2 separate regions of the Homo sapiens genome follow, and region 1 is linked to region 2. Evidence: fine-mapped expression QTL. A gene starts in region 2. The other region holds a variant in brackets. All regions are shown on one strand. Distances are between the middles of the regions. Region 1 overlaps ZCCHC4 (zinc finger CCHC-type containing 4). Region 2 holds the start of ZCCHC4 (zinc finger CCHC-type containing 4).

What was found.
Region 1: its variant is fine-mapped to the expression of ZCCHC4 in whole blood (TOPMed, PIP 0.95).

Annotation. Positions count from the first base shown.
Region 1 is chr4:25,349,340-25,354,720 of GRCh38, reverse strand. It overlaps ZCCHC4 (zinc finger CCHC-type containing 4), which reads right to left. Exons shown (of 13, transcript NM_024936.3): 7 at 5,079-5,229; 8 at 3,032-3,132. Among named protein-coding and RNA genes, the nearest start is that of ANAPC4, 25 kb to the left of the region's middle. The variant G/T (reference allele first, on the strand shown) is at 2,494.
Region 2 is chr4:25,309,589-25,314,969 of GRCh38, reverse strand. It overlaps ZCCHC4 (zinc finger CCHC-type containing 4), which reads right to left and starts at 2,196. Exons shown (of 13, transcript NM_024936.3): 1 at 2,034-2,196; 2 at 806-924. The coding sequence starts at 2,160. RefSeq lists enhancers at 2,078-2,137, 1,666-2,542, 4,130-4,269, 4,890-4,949 and silencers at 2,136-2,340, 2,348-2,417.

The DNA of each region.
Region 1 (5,381 bases), 40 kb before region 2:
TTCGAGACCAGCCTGGGCAACACAGAGAGATCCCATCACTATTTAAAAAAAAAATTTTAATGAAGTTAAAGTAACAAAAGAAAAAGAGGAAAGCAAAATGCTCAGAAAGGAATAATAGGTCCAGAGAAATTTTCAAAAAATAGAAAAATTGTCCAAGAACGTAATCAAATAATGTTTATAAATACATGAGGAGATACGGCACAGTTTCTCCAACATGAGCATGTAATGGACAGTACTGTTCTTCCCTTTAGCAGGAATTAGGAAAAACAAATTTGCTTTTAGACTTTGTTCTCATTTTTTTTCCCAAAGGTTGGCTTTCTCTTTATTGAGAAGACTGCTTTTTAGCCTGTCAGACACATATGACCTAATCAGAACCTTTCTTCATCAATACACTGAAGTGCATAATTATTGTCCACACTTGGACCTTGCAACTATTTCTCAAAACTGTAACCCTAATATTTCCAAAAGTTCTTTCCTAGTAACACAGACTGCCTAACAAGTGACAGCTGGTTACTCCAAAATTGCCTCTCTCATCTGCTGTATTCTGGATCTGTCTTCTTTTGTCCTCTCACCATTTCAAACTCTTGCCCATAGTGAAAAAAGAAAAACTCCTCTCTAAATATGGATGTAACAGTTTTCTAAGGGCACGAATTATTAGGTTGGTGCAAAAGTAATTGCGGTTTTTGCCATTAAAAGGAATGAATGAATTAAAATGAATGGCAAAAACTGTAATTACTTTTGCCCCAATTTATACAATTATGCAATTTTAATCTCTCAGATTTATCAAAAAAGGACCTGAGGGAGAGTTTTACCCCTACCTTGGGACTATCTGAATGATGACAATGACAGTGATGGTGATGACAATGCCGACAGCAAGAACCTAAACTTAATACTTGCTGTGTGTTAAGGACAGGGCTAAGCCTTTCCAGGTATTATTTCATAAAATCCTTAAAACCTTAAAAGACAGATATATTGCCACATTCATTTAACAGGTAAGATAAGCTTCAGAGGGGTTAAGTAAGTGCCAGCACCAGGATTAAAACTCAGATCCTTTTTGACTCCAGGGTTCATGCTATTTCACTCAGTTATCCATTTGACATATACATGGCACCTACTGTGTGCCAAACATTGCACTAGATGACCATCCATTGCCAAAGGCGGAAGATGCTGCTGAAAACTAGAACCCGTTTACGTAGTTAACTTCTTTAGAATATGTCAGCTATCTCCGTATTGCAAATGTCAATACTAGAAGCATCCCTCAGACAAGAAACAGAAAACTTGATGCCCCAAAAACGAGTTAAATGAGCTTTGAGAAGACTTATGATATAAATTTTGCTCAAAGCAGAGCTCAAGAAGTCAAGTATAAAATGGCTTGTGCTACACACTTTTAGAACAAAACCTGTTAATGCTACTTAATAGCCATAAAAAAGTCCATTATATTTGATAAAGTAATCTCAGTTTTGGAAATCTATTTTAAGCAAGTTATATAAAACATGAAAAAATTATATGCATAAAAGGTGTTTACAGCAGTGTTATTTATATTACCTTAAAAGGTAAAAACAACCTGTAGTCCAAAAAGAAGGGAATAGCCTGTAAATGAAATAATTTATTTATTAAAGCATAAAGATTGTGTAGCTATGTTTAAAAATGTATACTTATAAGACATAATGAAGAAAGCAGAATTCAAAATTGTCTTCTACGATTACAAACCTGTAAAAAGTACTCTTAAAAAAAGATTAAAAGTGAACACTTTGAAAGTACAGTGTCTGCTGTTTGGGTGGAATCACAAGTAGAGTCTTTTACTCTCATTTTTGGTAACACTGTTTCTTTCAGAATTTTAAAATAATTTTCATAATGGTATATGCCTTCAGGATTAGAAAGATTAGAACCAAGTGCTAGCTTGCAACAGCTAGTGAAGACATTTACAGCTAAAACTCTGCCTTAATCAGGGGCTAGTCGATTATTCAGAAAACTCAAATAGAAAACTCTTACAAAAAGAGGAAGCAGGCTGGGTGCAATGGCTCACGCCTGTAATCCAGCACTTTGAGAGGCTGAGGCAGGCAGATCACTTGAGGCCATGAGTTCAAGACCAGCCTGGCCAACATGGCAAAACCCTGTCTCTACTAAAAATACAGGGGAAAAAAATTAGGTGGCCATGGTGGCACATGTTTGTAGTCCCAGCTACTCAGGAGGCTAAGGCAGAAGAATCGCTTGAACCTGGGAAGCAGAGGTTGCAGTGAGCCGAGATTGTACCACTGCACTCCAGACTGGGTGACAGAGTGAGACTCTGTCTCAAAAAAAAAAAAGAAGCAGTACCTGCCTGAAGACCATAAACAGTGATGGCGACAACAGGGTTAACTTCAAACACAAGGGAAGAAAATACAGGAAAGTGGAGTTTAAAGCAGAATGAACTTAAAAGACCAGGTGGAGCTGCTGTGGACAGCAGCCTCATTCTCATTTCAGGCAGGGGGAAAATTCCATAGTCATTGCTGT[G/T]AAGTTACTCACTCCAGTAACTTCCTCCCGGAATCAACACATTCACACAGAGCCATCTCTGCCTTCTCTGACACTCCTGACATCCCAAGAGTGATGCAGTAAAGTGTGCATGGCATTTCACCAACCACAAAGGTGATTTACTTTTCTATATGCCCTGAAAAGAGGAAACCAACGTTCATAATGATGAACCAGGGGTGGGGGGGCTGCAAAATCTCCTAGTGATGATGAAAGACTAAATCAGCCGCTCTAAACCCTAGCACACTTGGAGTCACCCAAGGAGCTTGGTGAGATATTTTTTCTTGGGGCTTTGTCCTCTAATTCTGATTTAGTGGGTTTATTTTGGTACTCAATCTGTATTTTCAACATGCACTCTAGGGATTACTGATATTTAGAAAACACTGGACTGAGCTATATATGGTATAATATTAGTGTTTAATACAGCTCATTGTATTTTACTAAAATCAATGAATAGTCTTATATCTATTCAAGTAGAATCTCCATTCCCCAACCATGCCAGAAAACAGAATATGTACTCTACCTGGTAATCCAGCATCTGGAAGCTTGGAAAAAACTGACAAATTCGGGATTCAAAAAAATAGGGGAAAATCCAGAAAATGGGTAGTTCTTTGTGACTGTCATCTAATGGATCACAAAAAGGAAAAAATAATAGTAAATTAAAGAAAAAATAGAAGGCTACAGTAGAAAAACTTCCGCTAGCATAAGAAATTGCAATGATTCAACACATTTAAATCTCATACAAAAACAGAAAATATTTACCAGAGTGCCATTTCAAACCTGTCTATTCCCAAAGGTCAGTGGACATATTCCTTTATATCGAAATATAGCTACTAAGAGTATGTAAAAGTAACCCTTATATGTATATTACTATTGTCTAGGTAAGGCAAAGATGTTACCTAAAAAGTTGAAAATAGAAAAGGAGTGCCACTTTTGAGGCACAAAGGTAGTCATGATGCAGTGAAAGGACCTCTGGACTAGAAGGCAGTAGGTCTTCGGTGTGAATCCCAGCTCTGCCACAACTCATTATCTTAGTTTTCAGGGATGAATCAACCTTGTCTGCATCATGGAAGATTCTTCAAAACAGTTTTACCAAAATTAGTGTTTGTGAGAGACAGGGAACACAGCTATTACTTACAAAGCACCTAGTATAGGCTAGTATTCATTATAGCACTATTACAGCTAAAATTCCAATAGGCTGAAAAGCCTTAATCAGAGGCAAGCCTAATCATAGTGCTTACACTAAGCTATAATAAGTACATTCTATGTACTGTCTCCTTACAATAATCCCTAGAATTAGATGTTATCCCATTTTACAGATAGGGAAACTGAAGCCATAAGCTATCAAGTCCAATGCAGCTAATAAGTGGCAGAACAGGAATTCAAGCCCACAAAGCTCTTTATTGCTTCCCCAATGACATTGACTTTATCCACTCTAATTAGTGGACTTAAAAACAGCAAATAAGTGAAATACTTAACAATATGAGTCACGTTTTATATTTCATTTGCATTGTCCCTCAAAGCACTATTAGTGGAGAAGCATGATCACAAAATTCCTGACACTCTTAACAAATTTATCAACTTGCGAGCTAGAAAATGTTTCTAAAAAATGAATGTACCAACTAATTAGATAATTATATAAAATACTTTGAAGTCCTAAGTCACGCCTGTAATCCAGCACTTTGAGAGGCTGAGGCAGGCAGATCACTTGAGGCCATGAGTTCAAGACCAGCCTGGCCAACATGGCAAAACCCTGTCTCTACTAAAAATACAGGGGAAAAAAAATTAGGTGGGCATGGTGGCACATGTTTGTAGTCCCAGCTACTCAGGAGGCTAAGGCAGAAGAATCGCTTGAACCTGGGAAGCAGAGGTTGCAGTGAGCCGAGATTGTACCACTGCACTCCAGACTGGGTGACAGAGTGAGACTCTGTCTCAAAAAAAAAAAAAAAAAAAAAAAAGAAGCAGTACCTGCCTGAAGACCGTACACGGCTAAGTCACTTAAACTGAATAATAACCCCCAGCCACTAGCCTACCTATAGGGCTGGGAATCTGTGTCACTGATAACCACAATCAGCCTATGGGATGTCTAACCTCCAAACTCATATCCTGGCAAAGCGTAGAGCCCTGGACCTCAGGTTGAGTGCCCTCTTAGTGTTCTGGGCCAGGCTTTAGGAACAGGGAATGTATGATCCACAGGGCAGAGGTATGTGTCGGCTTTGTTCAAAAATCTATTCCTAGTACCTAAACAGTGCCTGGCACACAGTGGCCACTCGGTAAATATTTACTGAATAGAATGACAGCAGTTCACTGCTGTTCTGCATAATGTCCCATTATCCCCATCAAAAACATAGTATTTTACCTATAAGCCATTAAAAAAATCCACATGATTAGAATAATACAAAGTATATCATGATAATGAAGTTTGCTGCAACATCAAATAAGCCTGTTTTTAAAAAGAGAACTCAAGACATGTATATTCTATCACTGCTCTGATTCACTGAGCTCAGCTAATATTTGACAGGAAGTAGATATATAGATATGTATTTATTTTGCAGTAATAAATTATACACCTTGGCTTTGACCTTCTTTCCACATAGCAATTAACTTCTTGAATGTAATAGCCAGAGGTTCAACCAAGCCACCAAACGGAGGATCCGTCACCATAATGATTCCTTCGCCTTTATCTTCCTGTAAAAATGCTCTGCATACTTCAAGGGCAGTCTGGAACAAATAAAAATTCATTTCTAAATTAGGACTAGAGAGAGGCACTTCATCCTATTTGGAGGAGAATGCATTAGACTCAGTCTCTCTCTTAATACTGGAAACTTTACCAAGTCATCTTGCCACCGCAGCATTCCTCAGTGACATTCTGA
Region 2 (5,381 bases):
TCAGAAACTTCAACTGGAGCCGAGTTCAAGAGGATACCAAGCTCATGACTATATCTCTAAGTGCCTTCATTGGTCATCTAATAGCTGTATAAGGGATGTTCAATGCAAATGTTCAAAAAAAGTGTTTTTTAACACTTTCTGGAATGATCATGATTTCTCTTTAGTGAGCAATCTGTATCTGCCAACGGTGCTATCGACTGAATGTTTGTGCCCCCTAAAATTCGTATGTTGAAGCCTTAACCCCAATGTGATGGTATTTAAATGAGGCGCCTTTGAGAGGTAATTACGTCAAGAGGGTAGAGCCCTCAGGAATGAGATTAGTGTCCTTCTAAGACAGACAGTGCTTGCTTCCTCTCTCTGGGAAATGAGGATATAAAGAAAGGATGACCCTCTGCAAATCAGGAAGAGGACAGGACCTACACCAGACACTAGATCTGCCAGCATCTTGATCCTGGACTTCCCAGTCTCCAGAACTGTAAGAAACAGATGTCTGTCGTTTAAGCCACACAGCCTATGGTACTTCTGTTACAGAAGCCCAAGCTAACACACAGAAGATCAGCCCCACCCAATATTACCACCTCAGAGAGTCTTATGGGGAAATAAGACTTTGAGACAGTAGTTTAAGATATCAGTAATCAGAGTAAACATGAACTCATTTTCTGAACCAACAAACATAGTATCTCCATCTCTCTTAAGAGATTTATCTTGTATGTTCAGACCGCATATTTTTATTGGTTTACACGTTCTCAACAAAATTGTCACACATACCAAAAATAAAAAATAAATATCCAAAAAGTTGATATACCTTTTCATCTTCCCACTGAAAAAAATTACAGTCTTTTCTATCTCTACAGGCTGAACAGGCATAAAACCTCCGAGTTTCTTCTTTCCCTTGGGTCACCTTTACAAACAGAAGAGTGGGTCCTAGTTCCAGAATAGAAAAAAAAAAAAAAAGTGTCAAGTAATGGTCATCTACGTCAAGTTCTTAGTTTTCGCTGCCCTTAAATAAAATTTGTTTGAGCTTTAGGCACAATTTATCATAATTAAATCCATCTCTTTGGTTGGTTGTTTTTTGTTTTGTTAGGGTTTTTTGTTTTGTTTTCTTGAGACAGGGTCTCCCTCTGTCGCCCAGGCTGAAGCGCACTGGCACAATCATGGCTCACTGAGATCCTGCTTCCTAGCCTCAAGCGATTCTCCCGCCTCAGCATCCCGAGTAGCTGGGACTACAGTTGCGTGTCCCCAGCTGTTTTTCTTTTTTTGTAGACGGAGTGTCATCATTTTTGCCCGGGCTAGTCTCAAACTCCTGGGCTCAAGCGATCAGCCCGCCTCGGCCCCCCAAGTGCTGGAACTACAGGTGCACGCCACCACGCCGGCTTCTCTGTGTTTAATGAATGTTTCTTTTCTCTCTGTTACAACATTCCGGCAGTGACTACTTATAAATAATTTTTGAAAACCGGTCTCTTCAGAAAGAAAATGCTATTGTCGGTACAGTTGCTGTCTACGTTGTGAATATTACAAACCTGAGACTAAAACAAGGAAGGGACTCAGAGAATTGAGGACTTTGACATCTCTTGCGCGGTTACCCTTGCAGTGAAAACCTGAGCTTTGAGCTGGAAACGCCCACTTTCTGTAAGTTAGAGAAAAACTGAGTCTAGTTCGCAGGCAAGAATTACACTGTTTTTCTCCCTAATTTTTTATTTTTGAAGGGAGAGCAAATCAACAAATGAAATCCCCAAGTACTTGTCAACGAGAACTATTCAATACCATGCATTCTTCTCTTTGCCTACTTTTCTGCCCCTTCCCCCCAAAAGAGATGAAATAGTCCTGGAGCCAAAACCACAAGAGTGGAGACTTGCTCTGAATGTTTCTCAAGTAAGTTGAAAAACACCGCGTTCCGAGGAAGGAGTATTTTCTAGGCAGCACACTGGTGAGGGAAAGAGGCGGGTAAAAATACAGGAGCCCCAAAAGCCACTTCCAAGCCAACTCACACCCTCAGCGCCCGGCAGTTAGGCTGAGCCCAGACTCTGACCCACCGTGAGGGCACAGCGGGGCGGGGACGGCAGGATCCAAAGGAAGCACCACCTCCATTCCCGAGCTTCCCCGGCACCCTGCGCTGCCCTCTGCCTCCACGGCTTCAAACCCATTCCTGGAGGCCGCCATCTTCCCGCCGCCGTCCCGAAAGCCTCAGTACGAAACAAGAATGCTGAGAAAGAGCGCCCCCGCGACCCAAAGCGACCCACAGCGCCCCCAGGCGCTTAGGAGGAGCTTGGGCGGGGGCTGCCGCGGCGGAGGCCACGCCCCGAAACGCAGTCCCCGCCCACCTGGGGGCTGCACCTAAGCGGCCCCTAGCGGTGGGGCTCGCAGGTCACTTGCGGGACCTGTGCCATGAGCTCAGCGCATGAAGCACCCTCCTTTCTTAAGAATATAGCCAGGAAGTGAGATGATTCGAACAAAGACTTGGTTGTATTGTAGGTCCAAAAGGCAGCATTACCACCTCTGCCAAATAGCTGAAATGGCTGCAGCAGCTGTGATTTAAGGATCATTCTTTGTTTTTCAAAGTCACAGTCACTGCATCATCCTCTGTAACTTTTGGACAATGCTGAAAGTTGCACATCATAGTTGCATACTCATTGACATTTATACATAAGAAAGAAAGAAAACCGTCCTGATTTGCAGATGACATGATTGTCCACATTTTAAAAATCCGAAAGAATCTATCAGGAAAACACCTCCGGTTTAAACTGAGTTCAGCAAGGTTGCAGGATATGAGATAAACACACAAACATCAACTGGATTTCTAAATACTAGCAATGATCACAAGAACACTAAAAAATAGAATACCACTTACAATCACTCAAATAAATGAAATAGGTGTAAATCTAACGAAATATGTACAGAGCTTTATGTATGCTAAAAACTCCAAAATGCTTGATTAAAAAAAATCAAGGCTGAGTGCAGTGGCTCACACCTGTAATCCCAGCACTTTGGGGGGCCAAGGAGGGAGGATTGCTTGAATCCAGGAGTTCGAAACCAGCCCGGGCAACAAAGCGAGACGACATCTCTAAAATAAATAAGCAATTTTTAAAGTTTTTTAAAAATCAAAGAATAGCCGGGCACGGTGGCTCACGCCTATAATCCCAGAATTTTGGGAGGCCAAGGCAGGTGGATCACAAGGTCAGGAGATCGAGACCATCCTGGCTAACACCGTGAAACCCCGTCTCTACTAAAAATACTAAAAATACAAAAACAAAAAAATTAGCCAGGCGTGGTGGCGGGCACCTGTAGTCCCAGCTACTCGGGAGGCTGAGGCAGGAGAATGGCGTGAACCCGGAAGGCGGAGCTTGCAGTGAGCCGAGATTGTGCCACTGCACTCCAGCCTGGGTGACAGAGTGAGACTCCGTCTTAAAAAAAAAAAAAAAAAATCAAAGAATAAACAAATGCAGAAACATACTGCATTCATAAATCAGAAGACTCAACATAGTAAAGATATCAGTTCTCCCCAGGTTTAATGCTTATACAGGTGTAGCACAATTGCTATGAAAATCCCAGCCAGATTCTTTTTGTACATTTAGACAATATTCTGAAATTTATATGGAAAGGCAAGGGAACTAAAATAGCTAAAACAATTTTGGAAAAAGAATAATGAAGTGGGAGGAATCAGCCTACTCAATTTCAAGTCTTATAGTGCAGTAATCAAGACGCAGCCACATGTCTATGGTTGTAGACGAAATAGTCTCTTATGTTATTTAAAGAACCATTGGGGCATGTGCCTAGTTAACTTCACACATTGAGTGCTATGGTTTATTACTGTAAAAACATGGCTGTTTTTCTTTCACATTTCATGTAATGGTTTTACTCAAATTCTCCATCTGCACCAGTAGCATCTGTATCTTTGATGTACCAGTGTCCCCTTTTTCAAGTTGTCCAGAACACTTTTTCAGTGTATATTATCTGCACATGTCTGGTCTTTTGAGATAGGAAACTTTCTACAGCTATGATGATGATACTCTCGGACACTATCTCAAGACCTAACTAGCTGGGCACACATTCTCAGGACCCCTTGAGACAGTGCCCTAGGCAGAATAAAAACTAAAAGACCTAACTACCTACTCACATGAACTCTAGCACTTTTATTTACAAATTTGTTTTAGATGTACAAATTTGTGATCTTAAAAGACTTGTTTATAAAATTTGCAAGTGAATTTGTAACTCGTAAAACCAGAGTTACTGAGTCTGTATTTCCTCTTTCTCTTTTAAATAATGCTGATTCTGTGAGGCAACCTCTCTAAGCAGCCAAAACCAGTACAGATGTGCAGCCTTTACAGATAAGCTTCCCCAAACAGTAAAAACACAACAAAGATTGATCCAAATAAGGTAAATGGGAGGGCACTGCAAAATGTGAGAGCTGCTGAAGGTTTCAAACATCAGGCCATTTTGTTTGCAGAGGGATAATTTTGGGGAGAAAAAAAACTCACCTTATTTTCAGATATATATATGGTAAATAGCCTGTGTTAAATATTTACTGATGGGATTATGAATATGACCAATAAGTTATACATGTTTCATTTAATTTCCTGATAGTGTCTTTAGTCTGCACAGGAAAATGCTTGAGTAGAAACATACTGAGAGATTCAGCAAGGTTCTGAAAGGAAGCCAGAGACAGAACTGAAAATAGGTCCCTTGAGGCCTAAGCACCAGGAGAGACCTAGATTACACTTATTGTCAGGCCTCTGAGCCCAGGCTAAGCCATCATATCCCCTACGCCCTGCACGTATACATCCAGATCGCCTGAAGCAACTGAAGATCCACAAAAGTGAAAATAGCCTTAACTGATGACATTCCACCATTGTGATGTGTTTCTGCCCCACCCTAACTGATCAATGTACTTTGTAATCTCCCCCACCCTTAAGAAGGTTCTTTGTAATTCTCCCCACCCTTGAGAAGGTACTTTGTGAGATCCACCCCCTGCCCGCAACACAGTGCTCCTAACTCCACCTCCTATCCCAAAACGTATAAGAACTAATAATAATCCACCACCCTTGGCTGACTCTCTTTTCGGACTCAGCCCGCCTGCACCCAGGTGAAATAAACAGCCTTGTTGTTCACATAAAGCCTGTTTGGTGATCTCTTCACATGGATGCATGAGACACTTATCACACAGAGCGTGGTCCCAGGCTGCTAAGATTGCTGGAACTCAGCTACTCTCCCAGCCGATTGTCTGGTCAAACTGGTGAGCTTTCTTTCTTTCTTTTTTTTAATTTTTTTTGAAACAGAGTCTCACTCTGTCGCCTAGTCTGGAGTGCAGTGGAGCAGTATTGGCTCACTGCAACCGCCACCTCCCAGGTTCAGGCAGTTCTCCTGCCTCAGCCTCCCAAGTAGCT